4 linked regions of the Homo sapiens genome follow. The protein of the gene in region 1 binds, or shares a complex with, the protein of each later gene. Each region holds a gene or a part of one and is shown on either strand. Other genes may lie near its edges. The genes, in order: LSM8, PRPF6, LSM6 and SART1.

Region 1 (4,940 bases):
AAACAACCTAAGCATTGTGCAGTAGCCATGAGGGACTAGGTATCCAAGTGCACATTATATTGGCTTTGTAGAGCCATTGGAGGGAGTAATAGTTTCAGAGTCATGAAACAAATCATAAGTAGCTGCTCTGGTGCTCTCTAGAGGCAGAACTTGCTGAATTTGAAGACTATTAATGATGCAGCTCTCACTGGTACAAGTGAAAAACCTCTCAGCCCTACACAGCATCTTTAAGAAAGCTTTAATTTTGGTTTTTCAGAGCAATATTCACATGACATCTTTCGGATCTGGAATCTTAATTACCATTAGGTTGGAACTCTACCTGAACTAAAAATAAGTGGTCTCTATCACGTTGAAATTACTTTAATATTTTCATTTATGTTTATACTATTTATTTAAATGCGGAGAACATGGCTAACCATTCAGGACCATTTAATTATCAAATTATTAATGATTCTTCCATAATAAACAAGCAAACTGTCATACTTGTTGACTTATATTTCATTCCATGGAATTCAAATTTAATTAATTGATAAATCACATTGTACTTTATAAGAGTTTATTCCTTAAGTGTTTGAATTTACACTTTTTTCTCCTGTGACAGCATCTATTCCCAAGGCAATCAACATTTTAATGGAACGAACTGAGGTTTGCAATTGCTAATGTTATTCTCCCATCCCAGTTTCTACTTGTTTCTTGTAAAAAAGGAGGTTTCTAAATCTTGACTGTTGATTGACAATTAATGGGCTAAATTTCCCATTAGCAAACACTTTTCACATATACACTAATATTAGTATCTAAATTATATTAAAATCTAATTTGGTAGCAATTGACTTGAAATTTGTGATACTTCAACTTGTGCTAGGTTGTAGTTTTGCTTGTATCACTCATAGTTACTAAAAATGCAAAAGGCAAATTTGAAATAACTATAAAAATAAACCTTTAATGAACTTTTTAATATGCAATACTCAATTGTAAATAACCATTATCTTTACTGAATCAGATGTTTCATTAACTGTTAGCAGTTATTTCGAGTTATTTATATATCACAGAATTTTGAACTAAAGATCATCTAGCTGAATTTCCTTTATATTAAAGAAGAGGAGAAAATCTTAATACTAAGTATGTGTGAGCCTGGAGCTGCCATGGAGCATGTAGAGAGAGTCTCCTAGTTGATACCAACTCAGGAAAGCAGAATCAAGCAATAAAGAGACATTTTGGGCCTGATGACATCATTTCAGCACCTGGATCCAGCGATGCCTAAAGATGTGACTCCTAGACTTTTCACTTACATGAGCCAAAACGGTTCCTTTGCATCAATAAATCGCTCTGTGATGCATTTTATAATGTACAACCAAGAATCTCAATATTTATTATTTTGCATTAAATATCAGTAAGTTTGATATAAAAAGCTCAGTAAAATTCATTAATTTGAGAATGTGTCTATATCATAGTAAAGTTTTAAACCTACATAATTTTCAATATTTATACCTTTTACTGCAAAAATAAAAATGAGTTTATCCTTGCCCTAAAGCTGTAAAATTAAACTCTGTACAATTCTAGTTATTTGAAATATAAAATAAAATTATTGGTCATTTCATGTATACATTTGTGGTAACACTTTAACTTTTTCCCTGTAAGGCCATCTTTTGTATGTTTCTGTTTCCATCAAGCAGGCTTTTAATGCAACTTTATCTTCTGGGTTTCCCTAGTCATAATTAAGGGTTTGGCCCTAGTTCACAAGTAATCTTCCAGCACAAATTTTATAAACAAATGCCCTGTGAATCTGCATGGCATAAATCAAGTCTCTAGATCCTGATCACTTCTATGTGAATTTGTAATATTCTGCTTTTGGACTTGTAAGACCAAGAGCAGACTCCCTAAACACAGAGGAGGCAGTAATTTAGGACAGCTTAAACATTCTGGCTGACTGCCTCATCAATGCTATTTAATAACAGAATTCTGGGGATGTCTTGAAATAGATACATTGGCAGTTTTTTTGTTTTTGTTTTTGCTTGTGTCACACATAATGCTGATGAAGAAACCATGAAGTGTCATATGAAAGGAAGTTACGATTATTATTGGTGAGTACATCAGTTAGAATGGTATTTGGCTATAAGCACTGGAAACTCTGACTGCCAGTGGCTTTAACAGGCAGGAGGAGTTCATTTATCTCGAGAGAAAAGAACAGAAAAGTGAAAAGCAAGGCAGTTCAGACTGGGGCACCTACTCAAAGAAGTGACCCAGTACCCAGGCCACTATTTTCTCTTTGCCATCCTTTTGTTCTAATAATTTGCCTGTCATCTCGTGACTCATATTTTCCATCTAATTAGAATAAAGAAAGATGAAATAGGAAAGTGAGATTATCATATGGGAAAAATAAATGCTTTCCCAACTATAACCAGCAGACTATACTGGCAAAATATACTGCTTGAATGCCATTGGCCAGATCTTTGTCATATGGTTACCCTAACTACAAGGGAGGCTAGGAAGGTGAGGGATTTTTTTCCTTTTATAGTGACATTTTGCCACTCCAAATAAAAAAAGGGTTGCTGTTAGGAAAAAGAGAAGAATGGGGATGGGGTGAACAACCAACAATGCTGCCATTGTGCTAGTATAGAAGCAAGTATCTCAGAGGCAGGTGAAAACAACTTCTATGCCCAAACAGAATTCTTTTTTATCTCTGATATAAAATGCAGAATATGAATTTTAATAAATTCCCCAGGTGAGTCATATGCACATTAAAGTTTGAGAAGCACTGATCTATACTGTCTTTCTACACACTTTTTTACCTTACTTTATCCTTCAGGATTCTGGCGTCAAGTCCCTCCCTATCAGTCTTTAAAAACTGTAGCCTTAAATCAGTAGGGATATAGAAGACATGAACAATACTTTCATCCATCTTGACCTAACTGCCATTTATAGAACGTTCTATCCCAAGACATCAGAATATATATTCTTTTTAAACATTTAATGAAAGGATTTAACTCCCAAACTCCAAAGCAAGATGTTCTAAGAAGACTCATTTAAAAAATTAATCTCAAAAAACAGATTTTAAATTGTACAGGAGAAATGCTTATATGAGAACAGAATTATGGGGCACTCTGAATACTAATTTAAGAAAGAAATATAAACCCCTTTTAAAACTCACATAATTTTCCCATTTCCCTTGAAGAAGATACTAATATTTCTGATATCATATAGGAGTAAAAATTGCGGGGAGGTCCTAATATCCAATATTAATAGAGCTGTGATTATTCAAGCTGTAGACTTAAATTTTTTAAATAGAGTAATGGTTGTTTAGTAGAGATTAATATCTAAATAAGGAAAATGAAGAAAGGGACTAAAAATCAAGTAAATAGGATAATTGAGTTTCAATGGGCAAGAATTTTTATATCATGATTTTACCACTCTGAATATCAAAGTCAGTGATGTCTCCAAAAGGCAAAGGGAAGTGTACCAATTTTTGGAGCACTATAAAAAGTGAAAAGTCATCTGCCAGATCTAACATGGTATACTCTAATGGAAAAATCATCAAGATTCTCTTCCTTTTTATGATTCTATAGTAACAGTTTAGTTGAGAAAATAAATCATAATTTGTGATTTCAAACATTTAATATGTGCACATGTATATTATAATATACTCATCCTTTATATTTATCATGCTTTTTTGAATAAATTTGCCACCTTATTGCATATGAAGAATATCTCCATATTCTTACAGCTGTTTTTCTTGGTTGCTTTCTAATTCCTTTCCTCCCTTATTGGTTACCTATGAATTGCTCAGTTCTAACAATGATTTGTAAATTTTAATACTATAGATATATTGCTGTTAATTATTACACCTAAAAATAAATTATTTTACAGAGGCTACTAAGAATGTCCATGTTTTTTTCTGAGATTCTTGCCATATTTTAAGGGTGATATGTAATTATGGGGATAACGGATGGTATGTAAAAATAGCAAGGACACACTTTTTTAAAAAAGAAAAGTTTACATTTGAAGGAAGCCCTGGACTTTGATGATTTAAGAAGAATTTTAATTATTGTCCTCAAGCAAGATTCAATTTTCTGGTTTGATGGGGCTATATTTTTCATTTACTACAGTAAAAAATAAAGCATATGAAACTATAAACAAGACACCTGCATGTGTATGCTTATCATTGCACGATTCACAGTAGCAAAGTCATAGAACCAACCTAAGTGTCCATGAGTGGTTGATTTGATAAAGGAAATATTTCATATATACATATACATATACACACACATACACACATATGTAACATTTTTGTATATATACACAATAACATTTACTGTTTACACATTGTATATAGTGTATATATAGAGTGTATATATAATGTGTGTGTATATATATACACACATTCCATGATATATAATATATAAAATATTTAAATATATATAATATATAATATTATATATATATATAATGGAATACTATGAAGCCATAAAAAAGAATTAAATCATGTCCTTTGCAGCAACATGGATGGAGCTACAGCCCATTATCCTAAGTGAACTAACTTGGAAAGAGAAAATCAACTATCACATTTTCTCACTTATCAGTGGGAGCTAAACAATGTGTACACATGGACACAAAAATGGAAATAATAGACACCTGGGACTACAATGGGGGGAGTATAAGAGGAGGCTCAGGGTTGAAAAATTACCTATTGGGTAATGTTCACTCTATGAGTGATGGGTACACTAGAAACCCCATCTCCACCTTTACACAATATACCCATGTAATAAACATGCACATGTATCCCCTGAATCTAAAATTTAAAAAAAAGGATACAAAATTTAAATTTCAAATTATTACAGAACTCAACTGACAGATTTAAAATACTTTATTTTCCTATACAGCTGAACAGTAGTTATTCATTTGTTAAACTTAGTTTTGGTATGTTCTGGAAAAATATTAAGAAT
Region 2 (8,568 bases), on another chromosome or scaffold:
GAGGGCAGAGCCTGCGTGTCCACTGGGCTCTGGGCTGTGTGAGCTTCCGTGGCTTGTGGACGCCTTCTCCACATGTCAGTGGCACCCTGGGAGTCCTCTCTCCTGCCCATGTGGGCTCATGAGGACAGGACAGCTGGCTTCCCTTCATCAAGCTCAGGGGAAAGAGCGAGGTTGCGTGTGATGAGTCTACCAGTATAGGATGCGAGTGCCCCATTCAGGGGCTTTGAGAGGGCGTGGGTGGATCCTGGGTAAGATGGCCCTGCACCTGCCCCCGTTATTGCTCGAGTGCTTTAGCAGCCTCTTCACTGTCCTCACTGTACCAGAGTGAACATGGGCCTGTGTGTTTCCAGGTGAGTCTGGATTCTTGCACTGGAGTCGGCTCTGTCATCTCCTCCCTGGGAAGGGCTTGGACCAGACTAATCCTGTAGCAGAGCAAGGCCTGGCTCAGTTCCTGCCTGCCTGCTTTTGATTAAGTGTGATCAGGCGCTGGTCCCTGTGTTCTGACCCCTCTTGACGCTGCTGTACTTGCCCTTCAGGCCAACCCCAACAGTGAGGAGATCTGGCTGGCAGCCGTGAAGCTGGAGTCCGAGAATGATGAGTACGAGCGGGCCCGGAGGCTGCTGGCCAAGGCGCGGAGCAGTGCCCCCACCGCCCGGGTACGCAGTGGCAGGCAGGGCTGGGCCGTCTGGGGTGCATGGTGTGCACATGCGGGCCCCACGCCTGGCTTGGGTGGTGATGGGAGTGAGATGACGGCAGGCAAACGAGACCACAGCACACTCATCTTTGTGATGTGACTAAAACATTCATGTGGCCGGGCGTGGTGGCCGGGCGCGGTGGCTCACGCCTGTAATCTCAGCACTTTGGGAGGCCAAGGCGGACAGATCACCTGAGGGTGGGAGTTTGAGACCAGCCTGACCAACATGGAGAAACCCCGTCTCTACTAAAAATACAAAATTAGCCGGGCGTGGTGGTGCGTGCCTGTAATCCCAGCTGCTCGGGAGGCTGAGGCAGGAGAATCGCTTGAACCCCGGGGGTGGAGGTTGCGGTGAGCTGAGATCGCGCCACTGCACTCCAGCCTGGGCAGCAAGAGGGAAACTGTCTCAGCAACAACAACAACAACAAACATGTTCATACGGCCGGGTGTGGTGGCTCACGCCTGTAATCCCAGCACTTTGGGAGGCCAAGGCAGGTAGATTGTGAGATCAGGAGTTCGACACCAGCCTGACCAACTCTGCTAAAAATACAAAATTAGCTGGGTGTGGTGGCTTGCACCTGTAGTTCCAGCTACTTGGGAGGCTGAGGCAGGAGAATGGTGTGAACCCAGCAGGTGGAGCTTGCAGTGAGCCGAGATCGTGCCACTGCACTCCAGCCTGGGTGACAGAGCGAGACTCTATCTCAAAAAAAAACAAAACAAAACAAAAACATATATTTATCCCCACCTTTTGTGTACACAAACAGGCTATGAAAAGCTTACAAAAGTACACACAGTACTGCAGGTAACAGTGTTGAGGATGAGTGTACCATGAAGCACGTACCCTGGAGCTGATGCCCTGCGTGACAGTGCATGTCTGCCCCACAGGTGTTCATGAAGTCTGTGAAGCTGGAGTGGGTGCAAGACAACATCAGGGCAGCCCAAGATCTGTGCGAGGAGGCCCTGCGGCACTATGAGGACTTCCCCAAGCTGTGGATGATGAAGGGGCAGATCGAGGAGCAGAAGGAGATGATGGAGAAGGCGCGGGAAGCCTATAACCAGGGGGTACGTCTCTGCCTGCACCCTGGGGCTGCAGCTGACCCGGCATTCACAAAACTGAGCCCCCTGGTGCAGGGTCATTGCCCTTCGCCTCTGAGGAGATGTGGAGGGCTGGGGGTTACAGCTGATGGAGCTGCAGACTCAGGACCCAAACCCTGGTCCCCTCGCTGAGTTCTGTGCTTTTCCTTATATGAAGCTGCACACACTGCTCAGAAGTGCAGAGTGTGGCACACCTGCAGTAAAGGCTGGTACGTACAGACCTGTGTGCACAGGTCCACAGCACCACCGCACACCTGTACACCCACAAATGCAGAGTGTGAGGGGTGTTTTTCCATGGACATGGCAGCCCTGAGGGACTCGGTCACCCACTGCAGATGAGAAGCTGGGCATGGCTGTGTCCCAGTTCTTCATAGACACCACCTGAGCTGCTCTCTTACTTGTTGGTTGCAGTTGAAGAAGTGTCCCCACTCCACACCCCTGTGGCTTTTGCTCTCTCGGCTGGAGGAGAAGATTGGGCAGCTTACTCGAGCACGGGCCATTTTGGAAAAGTCTCGTCTGAAGAACCCAAAGAACCCTGGGCTGTGGTGAGTCCTGGAGGGGGCAGCCTGGCCTCTGGGCACAGCTTCCCCATCAGGTGGGCCGCCGTCACCCAGCTGCTTGTGTGGAGTCACTCGTGCAGTGCTTCCAGGCTCAGGGGCTTGGGGGGCGGTAGGTGCTGGCCATGAAAAATCACGGTCCCTGCCTTAGGAGAGTTCGGCCTAGGTACTGTGACAGGCCTGTAGATGGTTTGATGCAGTTTAATTTGTGTTCTGATGGAGGGCGCCTGGGAGAGGGAGGGGTTAATGATGGCTGGGACGAGGGAAGGATGGACCCCGGAGAGCCAGCTCCACAGAGGAGGTGGCGTGGAGAGCCCTGGAGGTGGACAGGAGCCTGCTAGGTGCAGGCTCTGTTCATGGAGGTGCTGCGTCCAGCTCAGGGTGACGGGGCTGGAGCACTGTGCAGGCACTGCCGCAGACAGGCAGCTTCTGGGTGCCTTGTGCGGCCCTGGCTCTCCCAGTCTGGTCTTGTTTGTTCTGGATGCCTTCACCTGCATCTGGACAGCGTCAGGATCTGAGGTCTTGCCTTGGGGCGGTTGCCAGTGGGGCTGGCAGGGATGTGGGCCCCAGCGCCTTGTTTCTGTGGTGGATGAGCTCTGCTGTGGAGGGAATGGAGTTTTTGCTGCTGTGACTGGGTGGAGAGCCCTTTCAGACAAGGCTTCCCAGAAGCTACCAGAATATGTGCTGTTGGTAGACGGCTGTGGGACCTCCGGGGGCCTGTCTCCTCAGGTTGGAGTCCGTGCGGCTGGAGTACCGTGCGGGGCTGAAGAACATCGCAAATACACTCATGGCCAAGGCGCTGCAGGAGTGCCCCAACTCCGGTAAGGGGGTGCCCCGACTCCGGTAAGGGGGTGCCCTGACTCCGGTAAGGGGGTGCCTTGACTCCGGTAAGGGGGTGCTTCCTGGCTTCCCAGACTCCGCAGGGCTGGCACTTCCTGAGGGAGTGGGGGCTCAGGCTTCAGACGGACTTTATTAAAATGTGTAGTTTGTGTGAATCATTTCAGTCAAAAGTTTCAGCTATACTCGGCCGTTAAGACAACTTAATGAAATTCTTGGCCTCAAAATGGGAGAATTTGATTTCATTTCTGAAGTGTTATCATTTCTTTTTCTTTTAAAATTTAAAAGAAATTGGCCAGGTGTGGTGGCTCATGCCTGTAATCTCAGCACTTTGAGAGACTGAGGCGGGAGGATTGCTTGAGTCCAGGAGTCCATTGCTTGAGACCAGCCTGGCCAACATGGTGAAACCCCGTCTCTACTAAAATACAAAAATGAGCTGGGCATGGTGGCGGGCGCCTGTAATCCCAGCTACTCGGGAGGCTGAGGCAGGAGAATTGCTTGAGCCCGGGAGTGGGAGGTTGCAGTGAGCTGAGATTGCGCCATTGCACTCCACCCTGAATGACAGAGTGAGACTCTGCAGGGTGTCCAGTCTGTGCCCTCAGGGCTGCCATGGTTTTGGGTGGGCCAGAGTGCTCATCCTTTGTGGTTCTCCTTGCACAAGTTCTGCGAGCCGTGTGTGGGAGGCCCCTGTCGTGGTCTGAGGACGTCCCGGGTTAGAATCTGTAGGCTGGGCACCTTTCCGGAACCAGAGGCTGGAGTGCAAATCTTTGTTCTTTGTTTCTGAATTATAGGTATCCTGTGGTCTGAGGCCATCTTCCTCGAGGCAAGGCCCCAGAGGAGGACCAAGAGCGTGGATGCCCTGAAGAAGTGTGAGCATGACCCCCATGTGCTCCTGGCCGTGGCCAAGTGAGTGGGGCCCCCACAGGATTGCTGAACCTCGGGGTCCTAATGGGCTCTTTTTCCAGAGTCTGTCTGCCTCTTCCTGGTCATTGTAAAGATGCCCGGCAGCAGGGTGGGCTTCCCCGATCCTCGGCTGCCGTCGCTCCTGCTGTGGTCTGGGGCAGGCGCCTCTCCTGGCAGACACACCTGAGGGTGCCGTGGTCAGAGACTCACTGGGGACGCATGTGATTCACACTGGTGCGCTGGCCGCCGGGTCACAGACTCACTGGGGACGCGTGTGATTCACACTGGTGCGCTGGCCGCCAGGTCAGAGACTCACCGGGGACGCATGTGATTCACACTGGTGCTCTGGTCGCCGGGTCAGAGACTCACTGGGGACGCATGTGATTCACACTGGTGCGCTGGCCGCCGGGTCAGAGACTCACTGGGGACACATGTGATTCACACTGGTGTGCTGGCCGCCGGGTCAGAGACTCACTGGGGACGCGTGTGATTCACACTGGTGCGCTGGCCGCTGGGTCAGAGACTCACTGGGGACGTGACTCTGGAACCTTGCAGGCAGCAGCGGGTAGCCATGGGGCAGAGCATGCAGACTCTAGGCACATGTGGGCAAAGACCCGCCAGGTGTGGGGCACAGCAGGGAGCTCAGGGCCATCCCCGACCCCCAGGGTCCCTGTTTCCTTCTAGAAAGAGGATGACAGTCTGGGAAGGAGCTGGGCCTGAGTGTGGGTCAGGAGGCTGGGAAGTGACCATGTGGGGTGAAGGGAGTTCTTGGAAGAACCCTGGGTTCCTGAGGCTGCAGCTCAGGACGTGGGCTCACCTGGCAGAGGTGGCGTGTCTGGCCCCAGGAGCTCTCCTGTGTCCGGCTTCCCCTCCACCTGCCCCGCCATGGGTCATGCAGAGACAACAGCCTTCCTAGTGCTGGCTTTTGATTCTCTCCATCCCTTCTCCCCAGCACTGGGTGGCAGTGGTGCTTGGTCTCCAGAGGTCTGGGTGCCGCCCCCACAGGCTTGCCTGTAGGGGCACCTCCTCTCCCCTGCCCGCAGGCCCCCGACAGATGAGAGAGGCTCCCCACAGGGAGGCTTGTGTCTGCCTGGTGCTACCTTGGTCCTGCCCTGTGCGTTCACCTCCCAGAGTGACTTCTGGGTGACACTCTGATAGTGCAGCCATAAAACCTTATAAAAGGCTTTGCTAAAGTAAATAAGTCACTCCTTGCTATTCCCAAGCCAGTGTTTTGTGTGTCTGCTATCTGGGTTTGTGCTCTTTAAATCACAGTTTATCTAACACCGGGCAATTAAGAATACCACAAGGCTTAAAAAACAATCAGGTTATCAGAGTGTGAAATTATTCCGTTTGGCAACTGAGACGAACCCGAACAGCTGCCCGGAGTGGAGGCTCCTCGTGTTGTCTCTTGACTACGGTGCCTCTGGCTCCAGGGGGAGGTGACCCTGAGGAGAGGGTGGCAGCAACGCAGAGTCCCGGGCCTGCCAGCATGCTCAGCAGCCAGCGCCCGCCATCCCTTCTCCAGCAGCGGGTGGGGGTGCCATGCACACCCTTACCTGGCCTCTCATAGCATGGACCTCTTCGGGCCCGGTTTTTCAGGTGTGCATGTGTCTGGCAGGCACGGCGGTGTGAATCCAGTGGCCTGAGGGCTGTGGGCTGCAGGCCCAGGCCCTTGTGCTGCCTGGAGCCCATCTTCTCAGTGTTCACTGGGGTTGCTGCTGGAGGCCGGGTGGGGCAGGATGATCCAGCAGGTGTCTCAGTGAGGAGCTGAAACTGTATAACTTTCCCTCATCAAAGTTGCAGTTTAATTTTGTGTCAGGTTTAGTTTCATCTCCTTGTATCTGACCCTAATTTTACGGAGTTGGAAGATCTTTCCCTGCGTGTGAATTTTTTAAGAAACAGTTTGGGACAGGTGCGGTGGCTCATGCCTATAATCCCAGCACTGGGAGGCTGAGGCAGGTGGATCATGAGGTCAGGAGTTTGAGACCACCCTGACCAACACAGTGAAACCCCATCTCTACTAAAAATACAAAAATTAGCCGGGTGTGGTGGCGCATGCCTGTAATCCCAGCTACTCAGGAGGCTGAGGCAGGAGAATCGCTTGAACCTGGGAGGCAGAGCTTGCAGTGAGTCGAGATCGCGCCACTGCACTCCAGCCTGGGCGACAGAGCGAGACTCCTTCTCAAAAAAAAAAAAAAAAAAACAACAAAAAAAAACCAATTTGGTTAGACCCGTGAAGGGCAGCTTCAAGTTAATGATCTGGGGTAATTATTTCTGGATCAGCCGAGGCCCTGATCCTCAGGCCTTCTTGAGGGGAGCACCAGGGCTGCGGGTCAGGGATGAAGCTGATGGCCCTGAAGCCGTTCCCCTGCCCCAGAATACCGTCCTGCAGCCACTCACTCTGGGTTCACGTCCTTCTGCTGGAACAGGCTGTTTTGGAGTCAGCGGAAGATCACCAAGGCCAGGGAGTGGTTCCACCGCACTGTGAAGATTGACTCGGACCTGGGGGATGCCTGGGCCTTCTTCTACAAGTTTGAGCTGCAGCATGGCACTGAGGTGAGGCCCCTCGACAGACCGCCGCTCAGTGCCTTCTGGGACTGTGGCGGGGAGTTCCGCCAGCCCTGGGGGCTCTAGGAGGTGGCCACGGCCAGCGTGACTCTGCCCGGGGTCGGGAGGATGGACCGGGTGTGTGGGGCACAGAATCCTCGACACCTCCCCACAAGGCAGTCTCTGCCTCCACATCCGTTTTCTGGTTATAGCCTCACAGCTCCACACCCTGGAATTGAGGCACCCTGTCCGTTAGGGTGGCCTGTCTGCTGGAGTATTTTAACGAGTTATTTGCTGGCTGGAGCCTGGGCTCACTTTAGGAATGGGAATGGAGTTGGCCTTTTTCTTGGGCCTGAGCCTGAGTGTGGCTTTCTAGGACAGCCTGGGCAGCAGCCCCTCTGCTCCCACCCGCCCCGCTAGAGCCAAGCGTTGTCTGAGCTGTGCTGGAGGCAGTCAGGCTGTCCTGGTCCTCCCTGGAAAGTGTTGCCAGCCCACGTGAACCCTAACTCCTTGTTTGGAGAAGGCAGACGTGAGCACTTGTGTGAGGCACAGACATGGGGAGCCTGGCTCAGTTCCTCATCTGTGGGCTGAGGCTGGTGGGGTCCATGCTCCTCAGGAGGTGGGGCTCCTTTGAGGAACACACCTGAAAGAGCCTTGCCTTCCGGTGCAGGGCCTGTGCCCTCTGGCCCGCCAGTTGGGGTTGGTGCTGCCAGGGCCAGGTCTGCAGGGGCCAGGCGAGAAGCAGGCGAGGTCCGGGGAGTAGCGTGGGAGGACCCCTGCCTGACGTGCCCTGTGGTCCCCCCAGGAGCAGCAGGAGGAGGTGAGGAAGCGCTGTGAGAGTGCAGAGCCTCGGCATGGGGAGCTGTGGTGCGCCGTGTCCAAGGACATCGCCAACTGGCAGAAGAAGATCGGGGACATCCTTAGGCTGGTGGCCGGCCGCATCAAGAACACCTTCTGATTGAGCGGTTGCCATGGCCGGTCTCCGTGGGGCAGGGTTGGGCCGCATGTGGAAGGGCTCTGAGCTGTGTCCTCCTTCATTAAAAGTTTTTATGTCTCGTGTCAGAACAGGCAGCCTGCTGGTTTTCTCTGGGGCCCTTCTCTGGCTCCTGCTTCTGCTGCCCCAGTCTGGCCTGTCCTGGCCTGTCCCATGCCGTCCTGGGGTGGCTGTGATCGCCCTTGCTTGGACAGAAGCCTCTTGCAGACAGCCGGTGTCTCACAGAGGAGGCACTGTGGAGGTGCCCGGGTTCCCCAAGACTGTGGAGAAGGTGGTAGGGGTGCAGATGTTCTGGCCAAAAGCCCTGTGAGGACAGCTGGAGACAGTGGGGACCAAGCTGCATGCAGGACGCAGGTGCTCGCAGGAGCCTGGCAGCCGCCTGCAAGGGTCTTGGTCAGGGGACAGCTGGGGCCTCCCTGGGGTCTGAGTGCAAACAGGAGAACCCAGCTCTGCGCAGGGCCTCTCCACACAGCCTCCCGGGCCCCTCAGGCATGTGCTGAGTGACAGTGTCACCAGTAAGAGGCGTTCTTTCTTTTGGAGGTGAGTTCATTTTTTTATTTTTGAGACAGTCTCGCTCTGTCGCCCAGGCTGGAGTGCAGTGGCACGATCTCGGCTCACTGCAACCTCTGCCTCCTGGGTTCAAGCAATTCTCCTGTCTCAGCCTCCCGAGTAGCTGGGACTACAGGCGCCCGCTGCCAAACTCCTGACCTCAGGTGATCCATCTGCCTCAGCTTCCCAAAGTGCTGGGATTACAGGCGTGAGCCACCGCACCCGGCCGTGAGTTTATCTTTGCTAATTTATCATTCGCAGTTTAACCCTAAAGCCCTTGTAATGGTTCTCATCTCCAGGTTGAACAGTGATGGTTCTCATCTCTAGGTTGAACGTTGATCACCCGAGAGACTTGGCTTCTCTTCAGCCTTAGCTGTGTAAGGATAAAGGAC
Region 3 (8,568 bases), on another chromosome or scaffold:
ATTTGCGGTACCTTGGAGATTTCTTTAAAACTCCTCACTTTAAAACCAAAGAACAATTTTTTTTATTTTTATTTATTTTTATTTATTTTTTTATTTAGGGCTTATAGCAGAGATTGTCAACTTCCATTGACATTTTGTGCTGGGCAGTCCTTTGTTGTGGAGGGCCGTCCTGTTAGTTGTAAAATGTTTAGCAACATCCCTGGTCTCTACCCACTAGGATAGCAGTAGCACCACCTTCCTCAGTCATGACAGTTCAGTGTCCCCAGATATTTCCAAGTGTCCCTGAGCAGGGTGGGGCAGGGTTGGGGGTACTGCCCCTAGATGAGAACCATTTGCTTATAGAAATTATCTGGAGAACTTTATAAAATGTAAAATACAGTGCCTTTACCTGAGTAGACTTCGGGAAAATCTGCATTTTAACAAGCATCTCTAGATTTGGAAACAGCTGGTTCTTGAATGACACAAACAGTTGTTTTCTCAGTTTTTGGTGCTCATAATAGAGATTACTTGGTTAGTATTTGTTGAAGTACATGCATGATCCTACTGGTCACTGTATCCATAGTTTGGGCTGATGGGGGCTGGACAGGGATTTTGCTTGGCACTGGCCTTGAATGTCTCTTCCACAGACTTGGGTAGTGTGCTTAGGTACCAGGGACACCAAGTGAGTAAGATATTTTCCCTGTCCCCAAGAAGCTTTAAATTCGCACGGGAGACCAGTCAGCAAATGGAAAAATTACGAAACAGCCTGATAAGGGCCATGACTGAGAGTGGAAAGAGGTGCTCTGAGTGGACTCACTTCGCCTTTGGGAGAGAGGGAGAGAAGTAGCCCCTGCTGCCGAGGAAGGAGGGATTGGTATGAAGCCTTCAAAAGACAGCGAGGAACTCCACTGTGTCCGAAGGGAGGATTTAGAGAGCTGTTCTTCTGCCTATCTGATCGCCTCCTCAGACACTGATCTATTAGTCTAGTGCTGCAATTACTTGGATTGTAATGTTTCCTTGCAATTTTTGCTTTTCAAATTCTTTTCACCCTAAACTGTAAATACGCCAGGAGTAGGTAAAAACTTACAGGTAAACATTGCCAAGAAATAAGGATTTTCATGTCTTCTGCTCAGTGGCATAACTCAAATCACATGAGATAGATTTCTTTGCATCTGTCCATTGTATTTCTCTGAGGCTAATTTACAGCACTTTGTCACGTTAGGTATTTTTTTTCCCCAGTGCTGCTACTCTCCAACTGGATTTCTCACCGCCTCTATTGCGATTCCCCAAGATTTAACCAGAGAATCTTAACATATTCAGAAGGGCAGCTGTACCTGTGAAAGGGCTTGGGCTTTGGGGTCAGCCTTGGCTTTGCTTTCCACCTCACAGGGTTTCTCTGTAAATTGCTTATGAATCTAACTCTGGTAGCACATAGTTGGGTTAATAAAAGTTCTTTTTTTTCTTCATTCTTTTACCAAAAAGAAAAAAATTCCCTGCAGGGCACTTTGCAGATGTTTTCATACTAGACCTCTCAGTAGCTTCTGACAGAAAATATACTGCCTTTGACTTAATAGTCATTTATGAAAATAGGTCATTTAAAACAAGCCTGAGTAGGAGTCAGGGGAGGGAGAGGAGGTATAGAGAGTGATTATGACTTTAATTTTGAAAGGAGAAGTTTTACCAGGGTGACCCTGAAGAAAGGTCTTTTTCCTCTTATGTGTTTATGGTTCAAGAGACTCATCTCTTGCTTCAGAAATTGTCAGAACTGTTTCTTCTGCTTTATCCAATTTAAAAGATGAAAACTTAAAATTACTTGAGCCAAGTGATGGGAAAAATTGTGGTGTCAAGACCAATTTACTCATACAAAATGGATTTATGGGCAAGTCATTAAGTAACAGGGAGTAGCAAGGAAGCCTAATGAAGACTAATGTAAAAGATACGGCTTTCCTAAAGTGATGGATAAAATGTGTTTGAGGCAACCCATATACTCTTTTCCAAATAACCTTAGAAGTATTTTTTTTCCAAGAGGTTTAGTAGAATGTAGATATTCTAGAGAACAGATGAGAAGCTTGTGAGCCCCTCTTGTCATGTGGCTTACAGTATTTTGAGGGAGAAAAGACCCACATAAAGAATACAAAAGAGGGCATAGTGACAGGTTATAGCAAATAAAATCAAATGCCAAACTATGTGATGCCAAAAGTAGGTGAGATGGGCATCTGCACTCTGCTATGGAAAGTAGAGAGTGGAACCCAAGCAAGTTCCTGCTTAAAACCCCTGTTTCCTATCATTGACAACAGTATTTCCCCTTGCCAGTTATTTCCTAGGCTTGTTCAAATAGATTGCTGGCTCCTACCCCAGAACTACTGAGTAGAATCTCCAGCTGATCCTAATGATTCAAGTTTGGGAAACTGACCCAGAGCCTCAACTCTGTGCTCCCTGTGAATGTGGCACAGCTCCCTGCCGCAGAGGCGTCTCCTCCTTGCCTATGTAGATTTTACGTTCTACCCAGACACTTGTTCCGTGCCTTTTCTGACTTCTCTTCTTTCAGCTAGGGGGTGACGCCTTTTCCTTCAAATTCAGCTCAGGTGTTAACTTCCAGAAATTCTTTGATCTGCCAAGCCTGGGGTAAGAGAGTGTTCTCTGCCCTTTTGTGCATAATTCTATCAGAATACACATCACCTTTGTAAAATTCTGCATTTACATGTTTCTTGCCCTCTCTGGAATGTAAACTCTGAGGGCTTAAGGCCTTGTCTTTGTGTTACATTCCCCAACCCTGTGCGCCTGAACTTGACAGGTGCTCCGTGAAAGTTGGAAGTGTTGATTGCCTTCAGGAAGAGATTGATGTTAATTGGAATACAGATAAAGCATAATGGACAAGGCGTTATCTTTGGTGAGCTTAGAAGAACATATCTGTGTTTATAAAAAGGTGTGGAAAGTTAATATTAATAATACTTTTAAAATAACCTATACTGTCAAGCAACTGATAGTCAAGATTTGCATTCTTTTTTCTGACAGTTATTAACTCTTTCCAGCTTTTGCTTTTCAAATGTTTTTAATCTGAAACTGTAAATACTCTATGAGCAGATGAAATTAGTAATAATTAAAGTAGTTAATATCTCCATGAACTAGAATCACATTACAAAGCATTTTAGTGATTTTTAACACAAAATAGCTACTTTTATCTCAGTTTTATACATAATGAAACTGTGGCATAATGGGATTTAGCATCTGTGATAGGAAATGCACCTGACTCATCAGTTGAGTATCAGGCCTTCAGAGTTAATATTCTCTCTAGATGTGTTCAGCCTCAAAACAGCATGTATTCAAAATGTAAATAAGGCGGTTTATAGATGAATGGGAAGATTTGTGTATTTTCACTAAACTCATTAAAGGTACTGAATCTGTTACAGTATTTATTTTGTATTTTTTCACTTTGTACTCAGAACAGTGTAAATAAAATTACTGTGTGATCTGAGTCCTGAATGAAAAGTGGTTGTCCTGAATAGTAGTTGTAATAGTAGTTGTAATTGTAGTTATCTGTTGAGATTGTGGAGCTAATAAAATAAGCTAGAAATTCAGTGGAAAAGTTAAGTTAACATTTGTTGAGCAAAATAATTTATTGCATTTTAAAAACATCTTTCAAACCTTGGGGGCAGTGTAGATTGTCCAAATGATAGCCCAAAATTCAAAGATAATTTCTGAAATTTGTATTTTCTTTTATTTGACTTAGGATGTTGACTTTTCTTGGCTAAATAAAATTATTTTACTTAAATTATGATTGCGTTTGTTTACTCACACTCTTTAAATGAGTTTAAATTCTTCTAGATTTTAAGTTCTTTAAGGCAGAGCCTTTGTGTATGACATGTTTTTGAATTTCCTTGCTCAGTGTGTACATGTACATGTAATTTGTTGAGCCCAGTAACCTAGAGTTCCAGCTTACTACAACTGCTGATCCCGTGTGAATTCACTATGAGAACGTCTCCAAATAATCCTTCTCCACACAAACTCAGATTATTGAGTGGATGGACTTAGAATGAAATAAGCATAGTGGAAGAATGTTTAATGAAAAAATAATGGAAGAATATTTAATGAAAAAATTTCATTGAAAACAAAAGAACAGCTTGAGTTCTTGAAGGGAATCCTTAAAATATTGTATCCATACTAACTTTTAAGTCTCAGTGCTATATAGCTGCTGAATAATAGTGATGCTGAATTTGACTGAAACAGAAAAATTAATTTCTGAAATATTTTTACTCAGTTTTTGCTTAACTACAGTTTTATTAACTTACCAACATATTTTGAAAGAGAGCTATTTTATAAGAAAAGATGCGTTTTGAAAGGAGTGATGTGCAGCTTTGCATGTCTGATGCTGTTGATTTGGGTGTGTAATGCTATCTCTTTTTCTGTGTTAGACTCCTGTTATACTTGAGTTTTAAGACTTTTTTCTTCATTATTTAGAGCACATATCTGCTATAGTCCTAATAGAGTAATTAAAAATCTTTGACTGTGTTATTGACTTTCAGAAAGCTGTTTAAGGTTGTGATTAAGAGTATGGGCTGGCTATCCACTTTCTAGCTGTGTGACCTTGAGCAGAGTGTTTAATCTTTCTGTGTCTTCTTCTTCATGTGTAAAATGAGGATAAAAACAATACCTCCCTTTTAGGGTAGAGCAATTTAAATTGATTAATATATATAAAGTTCTTGGAAAAGTGCTGGCATATAGTACACTCAAAATTACCTTTAGATTATAATTCTTTTCAGAGATACCATTTAGGCATCAGTTGTTCATAAATATGTCTGTTCTATATAATACGGACTTTAAAATAGGGCTGATTTGAACTTGAATGTTCCATCACATTTGGGAACAAATTATTTAATCTTTCTGTGCCTTTACTTTTCATCAGCAAAATGAGGGTATTAAGACCTTCTTCCCATGGTTCTTGTAAAGATGAAATGTGATAGTGTTTATAAAGACCTTAGCAGAATGCTTTGCATAAAATAACCAACCACTCACTGAATGGAAGTGGTAATGGTTGTAATGGGTATACTGACTATGTGTCAGGCAGTAATGATAAGTGATTAAGAGCAGGTGCTTTTGTAAACACAGGACTTTCCCTAATGAGACTGTGCCATGGTGTTGTGGGTACTGATAAGATAATGCATGTAGAATGTTTAGCTTAGTATCTGGCTCATAGTAAGTACTGAAAACATGTTAGCTGTCATGTAGTAGCAGTGGAGTAATACGCGTCTTCTCGCATGGTCCTTTGATACTTCATTTTCTGTAAGTATGTTAAGGGCTTTAAGGGTTTTGTTGAATAATCAACTTTGGTCTTTACCTTTTATTGTTCCTTTTCATATTTTGATTTAGGATTGTTAAAATGAGTCTTCGGAAGCAAACCCCTAGTGACTTCTTAAAGCAAATCATCGGACGACCAGTTGTGGTAAAATTAAATTCTGGAGTGGATTATCGAGGTAATATTTTCATGTTTCAACCTCACTGGTATAACTGAATAAGTAAATGTGACTTACTGATATTTATTAACCTCTTAAGTATACCCAATAGGCCAAAAAAGTACTGGTCATCAGTAGTTTTTATGCATATATCTTTTTCTATCTCTGAGATCATTCCTTTTAGAAGGACAACTCTGACAGTATAGCATGTGCTTCTGCCTTTCAGTGTGATTTGTGTGACTTCTGTCTCCTGTCTCTGCTTTGAGATCATATGTGCCTAAATTCCCTGGTAATAGCTAGGTATTCCTAGTGAACTCAGGTATGAACAACACAACTGAAGAACATCTTGGTGCAGCAGCATTTGTTTTTGCAGGAGTATTCAAGATTGGCAAGCAGCTGTTGAGTATCATTTTACAACCTGAATGTCCCACTCATATAACGTATAATGTGTGTGGCAACAGGGTGAGACTCTGTCTCAAAAAAAAAAATGCCTTTCTGTTCTTGGAGAGAATATTATTTTTAAGAGGCTGCAGTGCTTTTGAAATTAACTTTATAGGAAGAATGGTTTTAAATTCCGTTTTTTAAAGTTACTGAATTTCTTATCTTCCAAGCTAAGGTATGTTAAGTTACCTGAAATATTTGGCAGGTGTAACTATAACTGATTCATTAGCAGAGGGACGTGGTCTCTTGGGTTGCTATAACAGAATACCACAGACTGGGTCATTTTTATTTTCATTTTTTGTATTTTTTTTATTATTTATTTCAGTAGTTTTTGGGGGTACAGGTGGTTTTTTTGGTTACATAGATACGTTCTTTAGTGGTGGTTTCTGAGATTTTGGTGCACCCGTCACCTGAGCACTGTACTGGGTAATTTTCTTTTTTTTTTTTTTTTTTTTGAGACGGAGTCTCGCTCTGTCACCCAGGCTGGAGTGCAGCGGCGCGATCTCGGCTCACTGCAAGCTCCGCCTCTAGACTGGGTAATTTTCAAAAACAGAAGTTTATTTTCTCACAGTTCTGGTGGCTAGGAAATCCAAGATCAAGGTGCCAGCAGGTTCAGTTGTCTGGTGAGGGCTACGTCCTCCAGAGAGGAGGAATGCTGAGTCCTCACGTGGCAGAAGGCAGAGGGCAAACCAGCACACTGCGTGAAGACTTTTTTTTAATGCAGGCCTTCATCCCATTAATGGGCAAGTCCCCATGGTCTGCTTGCTTCTTAAAGGCCCCCACCTCTTAATACTCTCCTATTGCCAAACACCTGAATTTTGGAGGGGACACATTCAAACCATAGCACAGGTTTTTGTGGCCTTTTTTTGGTCTCTTTTCTGAATAATTAATAGTCATAGTAATCTCTTGAGCTTTTTCCTTTGAAATCTCTATTGATTATCCCCACCTAGTAGAGGAGGAGCTAGGACTCAAGTTCAGGCTCGGCTCATAAGCCTTGTTAAGAAACCACTCTGGTGATTATGTACTCCTTTAGCTTCTTGACATTAATAACGTATCTCCAGTTTAATTTTATTTTTATAGTAAAATTAATGGATTCATACGGAATACTGAGGTAGTATAATGTCTCCGTGTACTGCCTCTCACCTGCGAACTTTTGATGATGGGCCCATAGGAAGTAATAGACTTCTAGGGGTTTTAATCTGTTTGACAGTTGATTAAAGTGAGGACATTGTGTTCAATGTCTTCTCAGTACCCACTTTATTGAAGAGATGAACCAGCCTGACCTTTTTTCTCTGTACTCTTTAGGGAAAATTTTTCTATTTATAAAGGCAATACATGTTTTAGTTTTGTTTTAATTTTAGAAATGTAAAAGGAAATAATACAGAAAAGTATATAGAAGAAAGCCAAGGATCCCCAATGCTACTATCCAGAGACAGTTTACCAATTTTGACCTCTATATTAGCATAATTTGACATAAATGGAGTCAACTACATGCAACCTGATTTTTTTTTTAAACGTTGAAACAGTACATTTAGTTTTGTAATAATATAGAGGGTTTAATGGCTGCATAGGAATCTCTTGTGTGGCTGTACCATGGTTTTGCTTTTACTGTTAACCAATTTCCTATTAATGGACATTTAGGTGTTGACCAGTTTTTTGCCACTATAAACAACTCTTCTACTTTGACATATATTGTGAAGTTGACCAAACATCTCTTTAGAATCAATTCCCTGGGCTAGGATTTACAAGTCAGAGAGTATTCCATGGCCCTGCATCAGGGAACTTGGGTTTATCCTTCATGTTCTCACCAACTCTTGTATTAGCTTTTTTTCATCTTTTCCAATCTAATTGGCAACAAGTAATATCTCATTCTACATATATTTTCTTTGTTTACTAGTGAGATTCAGGAGTCTTTCACATGGATAGTAACCATAATTTTTTTTCCTCTTATGAATGGCCTTTATACTATTAAAGCAAAATGTTTTATACTATTAGATAGCCTTACTAAAGGAACGTGCTTATTTTGTGGTTTACAAAACCCCAAAAAACCCCAAAGCAAAACAACAACATACCAAAAAAAAAAAAAAAAGAAAAACTCCAGCAACTCTCTGTAGCAGTTTCTCTTTGAGAAAATGTCTTGTTTTTGGTTTTGTATAGTAGTTTATCTCATGGAAGGAAAGGGTTGTATTTCTAACCCCCTGGGCAGTTTTTTTGTTGTTGTTGTTGCTTGTTTGTTTGTTTGTTTGTTTTTGCCTTTGCTGTGAGAATAGATATTTTAATTAGAAGTGAACTCTTTTTTTTTTTTCTTTTTTCTTTTTTGAGACCGAGTCTCACTCTTTCGCCCAGGCTGGAGTGCAGTGGCTCAGTCTTGGCTCACTGCAACCTCCGCCTCCCAAGTTCAGACGATTCTCCTGCCTCAGCCTCCCAAGTAGCTGGGATTACAGGCACCTGCCACCATGCCTGGCTAATTTTTGTATTTTTAGTAGAGACGGGGTTTCGCCATGTTAGCCAGGCTGATCTTGAACTCCTGACCTCAAGTGATCTGCCAGCTTCTACCTCCCAAAGTACTGGGATTACAGGCATGAGCCACTTTGCCCAGCCTGGACATTTCATTTTGAAATTCTTTTCATTGGTTTTCAAACAGGTTTGCATATTGTGCCTCAGATTTTTCTTGCTCATTTATAATTGCAGTTTGTAT
Region 4 (8,724 bases), on another chromosome or scaffold:
GCCTCAGCAACCTGAGTAGCTGGGACCACAGGTGCGCGCCACCACACCTGGCTAATTTTTTTGTATTTTTGGTAGAGACAGGGTTTCACCATATTGCCCCAGCTGTCTCAGACTCCTGACCTCAAGTGATCTGGCTGCCTCGGCCTCCCAGAGTTTTGGGATTACAGGCGTGAGCCACCGCGCCCAGCCAAGTGTTTTGTTTTCACAGTGAGGCAGGAAGTGTAAGGTTCAGAACTCCAAGTGGCAGGTGCAGCAAAAAGAGTGATTCAACCTCACTCCTTTTACTTTCTATTTGAGAGGGCTAAGGCATAAGTAGGTATCTCCCATGCAGTCTCTCAGCCATTACAGCCTATGAACTTCGCTGTCTGAGCGGAACAGGAGACTCTGTCCTGCCTAGGAAGGGCAGGCACAAAAGAGGTTGTCCTGTGGGAGGGAGGGATGTGTCTCCTTCCATTCTGAGATGATGGACGGGGCTGACACCCATAGGCACCACTTCCCTTTCTGCTCAGGGCTCCTGTCATTGTTTTTTTGAGACAAAGTCTCGCTCTGTCGCCAGGCTGGAGTACAGTGGTGCAATCTCGCCTCACCATAACCTCCAACTCCCCAGTTCAGACGATTCTCCTGCCTCAGCCTCCCAAGTAGCTGGGATTACAGGCGCACGCCACCACTCCCAGCTAACTTTTGTATTTTTAGTAGAGACAGGGTTTCACCATGTTGGCCAGGATGGTCTCGATCTCCTGACCTCGAGATCTGCCCGCCTCGGCCAGCTCCTGTCACTTCTAACAGAAATAGCATAAAGTATCCAGCAGGAAAAGTGCACACAATATCACAGAAAAGATAGGGACTGCCAGCTCATTTCCCACCTCCCCTTGTAACTGCCATAAATTCCTTCCTAAATGGTGAAAGCCGTTTTTGCAGTAACTTGTGTTCCGGGCCATGGGTTTTCAAGTCCATGTCTTTTTCTCAATGAAGGATGGTTCCTTCCCTGGCACAGGGCCACAGCAAGGGTGGCATGGCCCAGCAAGGCTGAGTTTTTCCACCGGGCCCAGCACAATCGCTGAGGTCCCAGTACAGGTCTTGGGGTCTTGTCTGTGTCTCCCCTCCCCTCCTGTCCTCTTGTCTGCGTCTTCCCTCCCCTCCTGTCCATGGGTGCTGCCTCCACACCTCAAGGCCTCTCTTACATGCTTCACAGATGGATGCCTGGTCCCATGTGGGTGTGGCTCGAAGGTCCCTCTTGCTGCTAGAGTGCTCTCTTCATGAGTGGCAGTGATACTCAAGTTTGTCAAACAGACACATTTCTGACAAGTGCACAAACTGGGTTTTGGGTTTTTTGAGACAGGGTCTTGCTCTGTTGCCCAGGCTGGAGTGCAGTGGCACAATCTCAGCTCACTGTAGCCTAGACCTCCGAGGCTCAAGCGATCCTCCCACCTTGGCCTCCCAACTACCCAGGACTACAGGTGCATACCACCATGTCTGGCTAATTTTTGTAGAGACAGGATTTCACCATGTTGCCCAGTCTGGTCTCAAACTCTTGGGCTCAAGTGATCCACCCTCCTTGGCCTTCCAAAGTGCTGGGATTACAGGTGCGAGCCACCACGCCTGGCCAAATTGGGTTTTTATAAATGAAAATTGTGCTTCCCCAGTGGAACCCTGATCTCTCAGGGGTGTGTTTTTTAAATTTGAAACATATTTTTTTTTAGTTTCTCTGTCCCATTTTCCAAGCTGTCTGCTTACAAGAACCACAGAGAATGCTGGCAAGCTTGTCCGATCCCTACTATAGCACAGTGAAATAAACTGAGCCCAGAGCCAAGAGCCCAGAGAGAGGCCTCACCCAAAGTCACACAACCAACAACCACAGCTCCCCCTCAAGGGAAAGAGGATGGGGAGGGGAAGCTATGTAAGCACGTGTCTGGAAGCTCAGAAGCCAGCACTGGCCCCTTTCCCATGGGGCTGGCACAGGAGGATGGGCAAGCCCCAGCTGCACAGGGCTCGGCCCCTCACTTCCCAGCTGCACAACTTTGAACAAGTCCCTCAACCCTCCCGATCCATCCGTAAATTGGGTGAATAATTTCCACCTTGGCTGACTTCACAAGGAATCCAGGCAAGAATGGGAATGAAATAGCTTTGTAAAGGTGAGGGTGAGGACATGAATATCAAGTCCTTAGTGAAGATAAGCGGGCTCAGGAATGGAGATCAACAGTTGTGTCCATGGTTAGCTGCACAAAGGCCTGTCTCCCCTGCAGGCGCCAGGAGCGACAGCGCTTTGCTGAGTACCAGGCGGAGCTGCAAGGCATCCAGCACAGGGTGCAGGCCCGGCCCTTCCTGTTCCAGCAGGCTATGCAGGTGAGGCTGGCACCTGGGCAAGCACATAGCTGCCCCCTGTGAAGAGCTGGCTGAGTGGGTAGGGAAGCAGGATGCGAGTAGGTCCCTGCAGATAGGATCCCAGGGCTGCTGCCCTCTGGAATCCCTGGGACCCCCTCAGTAACCCGATCCCCACCTTGCCCTCGGCAGCCCTGGTGCAGAGCAGGAAGCCGTCTTCTCTCTCCTCAGGCCAATGCCCGGCTCACCGTCACTCGGCGCTTCTCCCAGGTGCTGTCAGCACTGGGGCTGGATGAGGAGCAGCTGCTGTCTGAGGCAGGAAAGGTGGACAGAGAGGGCACCCCCAGGAAACCCAGGTGAGTCTCCCCGTCAGGTCAAGAACTGACTCTGCCATGCTGCTGCGGGAAGGGGCGCCCACACCAGCACTCTGGGCTCTGGAGGGCCTCCCCCAGGACAGGCAGAGAGCCCAGAGGAAGGCAAGGCCAGGGTTGTCATTCCTACTTCTCAATGAGGAAACTAAGGACCTGAGGGGAAGGGCCTTCTTTAAGGACGCAGGAGCGAACAAGCAGCAGAACCAGTCTGGGACTCTGCAACCATCTGAGCGGCCACACACCAAGTCCCTCATTAGGGGCTGGCACCACCACGCTGGTCACCCCATGCCTTAGAATAACCTGGTACAGAGCAGCGATTATGAAGCCCACTTGACAATAAGGAAAGTGAGACTCGAGAAGAGTCACTTTGCCCAGGATCACACAGCAAGCCGGCACTGAAGCAGGGTTTGAAGCCACATTGTCAGTGGTTTCCTTGGGCATGGGGGTGGGAGCTGCAGAGTCAGGGGCCTCTATCTGTGTCTTGAAGGAGCCACAGGTCAATGGGGGTGAGAATGGAGCACTCTCCTCAGAGGCCCCCAAGGACAGAACCCACCGGCAGCCAGCCTGACAGGCACTACAACCCCAGCCTGGACCCGGAGTGCAGTCCCTGAGATAAAATTAAAGGCTTTATGGCAAACACAGTATGAGATTTCTGGTGGTGGGGGTGGTGGAAGCTACGGGTTGGAAGTTGGAGGTGGCAGGTGGGTGGGCAGCAGGCTTAGCTCTGTCCCCGCACCCCCTCCCCACCAGGAGCTTTGGCTCTTTTGGTTCCCCCCACCCAGTACACACAGCCCCTTCTCTGCTCCTGAGGAGTGGGGACATCTCAAAGAGCAAGAGCTGTGACTTCTCCACCCCATCTCCAATGTATATGTTGGGTCCTATAAATTCAAGCATGAATAAGATGAAATGACTCCTGCCTCTGAGGACGCCCAGTGAGTGGGAGAGGGGGTGGATCCTTAAAGGGGCGCATACAACATAGCCTAACACATGCTGAGTTGTGCCACACAGGGAGCCACAGACTGAGCAACCACTGGGTGAGGGGAGGGGTTTCAGGAGAGATTGGGATTGTGTGCACTGCGCTTTTTTTTTTTTTTTTTAAGACAGAGTCTCGCTCTGTCACCAGGCCGGAGTGCAATGGTGTGATCTCAACTCACTGCAACCTCTGCCTCCCAGGTTCAAGCGATTCTCCTGCCTCAGCCTCCTGAGTAGCTGGGACTACAGGTGTGCGCCACCACACCCAGCTAATTTTTGTATTTTTAGTAGAGACGGGGTTTTACCATGTAGGCCAGGATGGTCTCGATCTCTTGACCTCGTGATTCGCCTGCCTTGGCCTCCCAAAGTGCTGGGATTACAGGCGTGAGCCACCGCGCCCGGCCTGCACTGGGGTTTTAAGTCCCAATAGTTTTAAGTTAGGGCTGGTCTCCTCAAGAAAAAAACTCATACACACAGATGTGCCACATTTTGCATTCAATTTCAGGGGTTCCAGGGATACACTGACGCCCATGTGGAGCTCCTAAACAATCTTAACAGTTCACGGGGCCAGGTTTTAAAAATCCAATCCAGGGCCAGGCGCAGTGGCGCATGCCTGTAATCTCAGCACTTTGGGAGGCCAAGGCGGGTGTATAGCCTGAGCTCAGGAGTTCGAGACCAGCCTGGCCAACATAGTGACCCCACCCCCTACCCCCGCTCCCCACCAACCATCTACAAAAAAATACAAAAATTAAAGGGGCGTGGTAGCGTACTCTCGTAGTCCCAGCTACTGGGAAGGCTGAGGTGGGAGGATCACTTGAGCCCAGGAGGTCGAGGCTGCAGTGCGCTGTGATCACGCCACTGCACTCCAGCCTGAGCAACAGAGTGAGATCCTATCTCAAGGGAAAAAACAAAACAAAACAAAACAGGGAACGTGGGAAGGAAGCGTTCCCTGACGATACTGGTTATAGCGGGTCTGAAGCTGGGCTGTGGAATTGGAGATCTCGGGAAAACAACACCCGTTGGAGCCACGACCCTAGGAGTCCACTAAGCGAGCGCCCATTGTAGGAGGGAGGTGTCTACGGAAAGACCGTGAGGTAGTGAACACCCCGTTGCCGGTGAAGTGCAAGCGCAGGGAGGCCGGGGAGGAACTTAAAGCCACGAAGACACTGACTTAATGGGCTCTAAGTCCTTCCAGTTCTGGGATCCCACCTCCGGGTTAATTCCGCTTCCCTTGAGGAGCGCATGCGCAATGGGACCACTCGCTCAAAGAACCCACCCGACCCGAGACGGCGCGAATGTGCAGTCGAGCGCTGATCCCGGCCTTCCCATGAGCCTCTGGGGCAGGCTCCAAGGCGAGCGACGGAAGCAGCCGCTCTTAGTTTCCGGCAACACGACAGCGGCTGCCGAGCGACCCGGAAGTATTCCCATTTTGCGTTGTCTGGGCTCGGCGGCAGCCGGGCTCGGAGTGGACGTGCCACTATGGGGTCGTCCAAGAAGCATCGCGGAGAGAAGGAGGCGGCCGGGACGACGGCGGCGGCCGGCACCGGGGGTGCCACCGAGCAGCCGCCGCGGCACCGGGAACACAAAAAACACAAGCACCGGAGTGGCGGCAGTGGCGGTAGCGGTGGCGAACGACGGAAGCGGAGCCGGGAACGTGGGGGCGAGCGCGGGAGCGGGCGGCGCGGGGCCGAAGCTGAGGCCCGGAGCAGCACGCACGGGCGGGAGCGCAGCCAGGCAGAGCCCTCCGAGCGGCGCGTGAAGCGGGAGAAGCGCGATGACGGCTACGAGGCCGGTGAGGAGGCGGGGCCTGCGCAGGGGGCGGGTCGGGCGGGGGTCCCGGAACGCGTGGGTCTGGGTGTGCGCGCAGTGTCAGCGAAGCTCTTCAGGCCAGGAAACCCCCAAGCTGTTTACCAGCTCTATTAAATAGTCTTTCTACGGGATCCCTTGAGCCCAGGAGTTAGAGGCTGCAGTGAGCTGCGGTCCCGCCAGTGTACTCCAGCCTGGGCAACAAAGCGAGACTCTGTCTCAAAAAGAAAAAAGTCTTTCTACGGTTGTTTAGGATTAGAGGTTGACTTTCTCCACTCAGCTGCTTGAGGACAGAGGGCTTCTGTTTTCCTCAGTTGTCTGGTACAATCAGATTCTCAATAAATATGTTGAATGAGTGAATGAAGTAGTGTCAGCATATACAGAGGCAAGAAAAACCTGGTATTGGACGAATCGTGTAGGGCGCATGGTAGAGAAATGAGGGAGTAAGATAGACAGGGATGTGAACACAAAGGACCCTGTACTGTAGTCTCTGTTAAGAACTGTAGATTGTCTTGAGGATAGTAGGGAGCCATGGATGTGAGTTGAGGAGTGAGTTGCTCAGATCCGTATTTTGTAAACATCACTGGATTGAGAATTTAGTCAAAGGTAGTCAGGACTGGAGACCAGGAAACCAGGAGGGCTATAGGCCAGGGGAGGGCTGATGGTGGCCTGCACCAAGGCAGCAGCAGTGGGATTGAGAGAAGTGGACAGGTTGGAGAGGTGTTTTGGAGGAGGAATGAACAGAACTCAGCACTTGTATGAGGGTGGGAAGAAGGAATGGAGGATGACTCCTTGAATTTTGGCTTGAGCAGCCAGATAGGTAGTGGGTGTCATTTCTACTGAAATTGAGGAGTAGGGAAGAGAAGCAGATTTGGAGCGGGGGTGGGGGGAGATAGTTCACTTTTGGGGTTGTCAAGGTTGATGGTAATGGGGAAATCCAGAGTTTGGACTGGATAAAGCCATTGGGAGTCAGTATCTGGGTGGCCAGTGAAGCCCCTGAAAGACTGTGACATGAGAAGAGGGGGTCAGGACTAGAACCTGAGAAATGCCCTTATGTTAGTAGTAGGCAGAGAAAGATGTTACCAAAAAAAGGAGACAGAGTAACCAAAAAGGCAGGAAAACCTTTGTGTCATGGGAACTTTGGGAAGAGAGTATTGTTAGAAGGAGGGAGCGATCAGCAGTCCCACATACCACAGGAGATCAAGCAAAACCAGAACCGAAAAGAACCCACTAGATTTAGAAACGAGGAGGCTGGTGACCTTGGGGAGCCTGGAGAGGTTGGGATCCATGGCCCAGGTGGAGAGAGAAGCCTTTAAGATAAAGGAGAAGGTAGGATGCAGGATGGGAATGCAGGAAAGGAAGAGTTTTTTTTTTGTTTTGTTTTGTTTTTTTGAGACAAAGTCTTGCTCCATTGCCCAGGCTAGAGTGCAGTGGCACGATCTCAGCTCACTGCAAGCTCTGCCTCCTGGGTTCAAGCAATTCTCCTACCTCAGCCTCCCGAGTATCTGGGATTACAGGTGCGCACCACCGTGCCTGGCTAATTTTTATATTTTTAGTAGAGACGGGGTTTCACCATCTTGGCCAGGCTGGTCTTGAACTTCTGACCTCGTGATCCATCTGCCTCGGCCTCCCAAAGTGCTGGGATTACAGGCATGACCCACCATACCCGGCCCAGACCTTGTCTGTTAAAAATGAAAGAAAAAAGTAGAGGGCAGAGTGGTGACTACAGCAGTTTGGATGTCTTGGGTCAGGAAAGGAAGGTGCACAGAAGAGGCAGGGCTCTGAGACTGGACTCGGGCAGAGGAGCTGCTGGGGAGCTTGGGTGGAAGAAGCTGCTGTTTTCTGGTGTTTCAGCAGGCCCAGGTGCTGGTGAGGGGCCCTCATTTTTGTTCCTGCAGCTGGAGCCAACGATGCTGGCTTCTTGGCCCTGTGTTCAGCTCCTGAGCCATGCTTCTTCTTGTTCCAGCTGCCAGCTCCAAAACTAGCTCAGGCGATGCCTCCTCACTCAGCATCGAGGAGACTAAGTGAGTACTGTCTCCCTTGTTTCTACTTTGTTTTTCTAAGAGAGGTGGCTCTGGGGCCAGCACGGGGGAGGCTTTCTCACATGAAAGTGTGCTAATCAGAGTTGGAAAGATTGTTTAAATCATCTTAGCCAACAGTTGACTTATAGAAGAGAAAACTAAAACCTAAGAGTAAAGTGGCATTCACTGGTTAGACGCAGACCAGGCTGGTGCCCATGTTTCCTGCTTTGGAGGCCAGGGCCCTTCCCAGTGTCCTAGGCTGCCTGGGGCAGACTTTGTGTTTGGGACCACTCACTCCCACCCTGTTTCTCCTCTTGTCTGTCTGGAAATGCACATGGCACCCTGTGTCTTTAATAGCCCCTAACACTTGTATCTCTTGTTGTCAGCAAACTCCGGGCAAAGTTGGGGCTGAAACCCTTGGAGGTTAATGCCATCAAGAAGGGTGAGTATGGGGCTGAGGATAGGGTTTGGGGGAAAGAGGCCATCTGAAGGGGTCTTTGAAGAAGGTGGGGTTAGAGGGCAGGTTCAGCACTGTTTAGTGGTCTTACACATGCATATTTGCCGGAAGGCATGAGGTCCCTCCTTGCTGGTATAATGGGGATCTGGGGCTCCGCCTGCTCTCTGAGTTGGAGCTGTGGCCGTCGCATACTCACTCTGGCTGTGAGTTGTTAGATGGACTGGAAGATGTGCACACTTGCTGCAGACTGCGCTGTGCGGGGGTGGGTTTCTTGTTTTTCTTTAAAGCACGATTTGAGGGGCTTTGGAAGCCACAGAGGGTCCTGTTGTGCTGCATGGGTTGGCCAGGAGTGTGGGGACGAAGTGGGAGCAGGGAGGTGAAGGATTGTTCCTTCCTGTCCTGACCCCTTCTGGCCCCCTGAGCTGGAAGGGGGCAGGGTGAGTGGCTCCCTCCTCTCCCCACCAGCCATGGGCGGGCATAGCCTCACGTCTGGGCCCCCCTTCCAGAGGCGGGCACCAAGGAGGAGCCCGTGACAGCTGATGTCATCAACCCTATGGCCTTGCGACAGCGAGAGGAGCTGCGGGAGAAGCTGGCGGCTGCCAAGGAGAAGCGCCTGCTGAACCAAAAGCTGGGGTGAGGGGTCCTGGCCAGGGCAGGCAAGGGAAGGGCTGGGGAGGCCACCATCCTTGGCTGCCTCTTGAGTGGGGTGGGGAGCAGGAGCTGGGCTCCTTGAGCATCACTTTTTCCCCTCTTCAGGAAGATAAAGACCCTAGGAGAG

The links.
Region 2: LSM8 (region 1) and PRPF6 share a complex: the UniProt entries of both Homo sapiens proteins name them as parts of the U4/U6-U5 tri-snRNP complex.
Region 3: LSM8 (region 1) and LSM6 share a complex: the UniProt entries of both Homo sapiens proteins name them as parts of the precatalytic spliceosome.
Region 4: LSM8 (region 1) and SART1 share a complex: the UniProt entries of both Homo sapiens proteins name them as parts of the U4/U6-U5 tri-snRNP complex.

Annotation. Positions count from the first base shown.
Region 1 is NC_000007.14:118,200,166-118,205,105, forward strand, and holds the end of LSM8 (LSM8 homolog, U6 small nuclear RNA associated), read left to right. Parts: 3' UTR 1-3,870; downstream 3,871-4,940. UniProt on the Homo sapiens protein: Plays a role in pre-mRNA splicing as component of the U4/U6-U5 tri-snRNP complex that is involved in spliceosome assembly, and as component of the precatalytic spliceosome (spliceosome B complex).
Region 2 is NC_000020.11:64,025,403-64,033,970, forward strand, and holds the end of PRPF6 (pre-mRNA-processing factor 6), read left to right. Parts: intron 1-536; coding exon 537-656; intron 657-1,579; coding exon 1,580-1,756; intron 1,757-2,200; coding exon 2,201-2,334; intron 2,335-3,075; coding exon 3,076-3,167; intron 3,168-3,974; coding exon 3,975-4,089; exon of another isoform or gene 4,090-4,283; intron 4,284-4,389; exon of another isoform or gene 4,390-5,406; intron 5,407-6,515; coding exon 6,516-6,642; intron 6,643-7,438; coding exon 7,439-7,591; 3' UTR 7,592-7,698; downstream 7,699-8,568. UniProt on the Homo sapiens protein: Involved in pre-mRNA splicing as component of the U4/U6-U5 tri-snRNP complex, one of the building blocks of the spliceosome.
Region 3 is NC_000004.12:146,177,566-146,186,133, forward strand, and holds part of LSM6 (U6 snRNA-associated Sm-like protein LSm6), read left to right. Parts: intron 1-5,340; exon of another isoform or gene 5,341-5,346; 5' UTR 5,347-5,356; coding exon 5,357-5,450; intron 5,451-8,568. UniProt on the Homo sapiens protein: Plays a role in pre-mRNA splicing as component of the U4/U6-U5 tri-snRNP complex that is involved in spliceosome assembly, and as component of the precatalytic spliceosome (spliceosome B complex).
Region 4 is NC_000011.10:65,956,640-65,965,363, forward strand, and holds the start of SART1 (U4/U6.U5 tri-snRNP-associated protein 1), read left to right. Parts: upstream 1-5,094; 5' UTR 5,095-5,141; coding exon 5,142-5,454; intron 5,455-7,434; coding exon 7,435-7,492; intron 7,493-7,875; coding exon 7,876-7,931; intron 7,932-8,452; coding exon 8,453-8,579; intron 8,580-8,702; coding exon 8,703-8,724. Other genes in the region: TSGA10IP (testis-specific protein 10-interacting protein), read left to right, coding at 2,244-2,343, 2,512-2,675, 3,178-3,301. UniProt on the Homo sapiens protein: Plays a role in mRNA splicing as a component of the U4/U6-U5 tri-snRNP, one of the building blocks of the spliceosome. May also bind to DNA.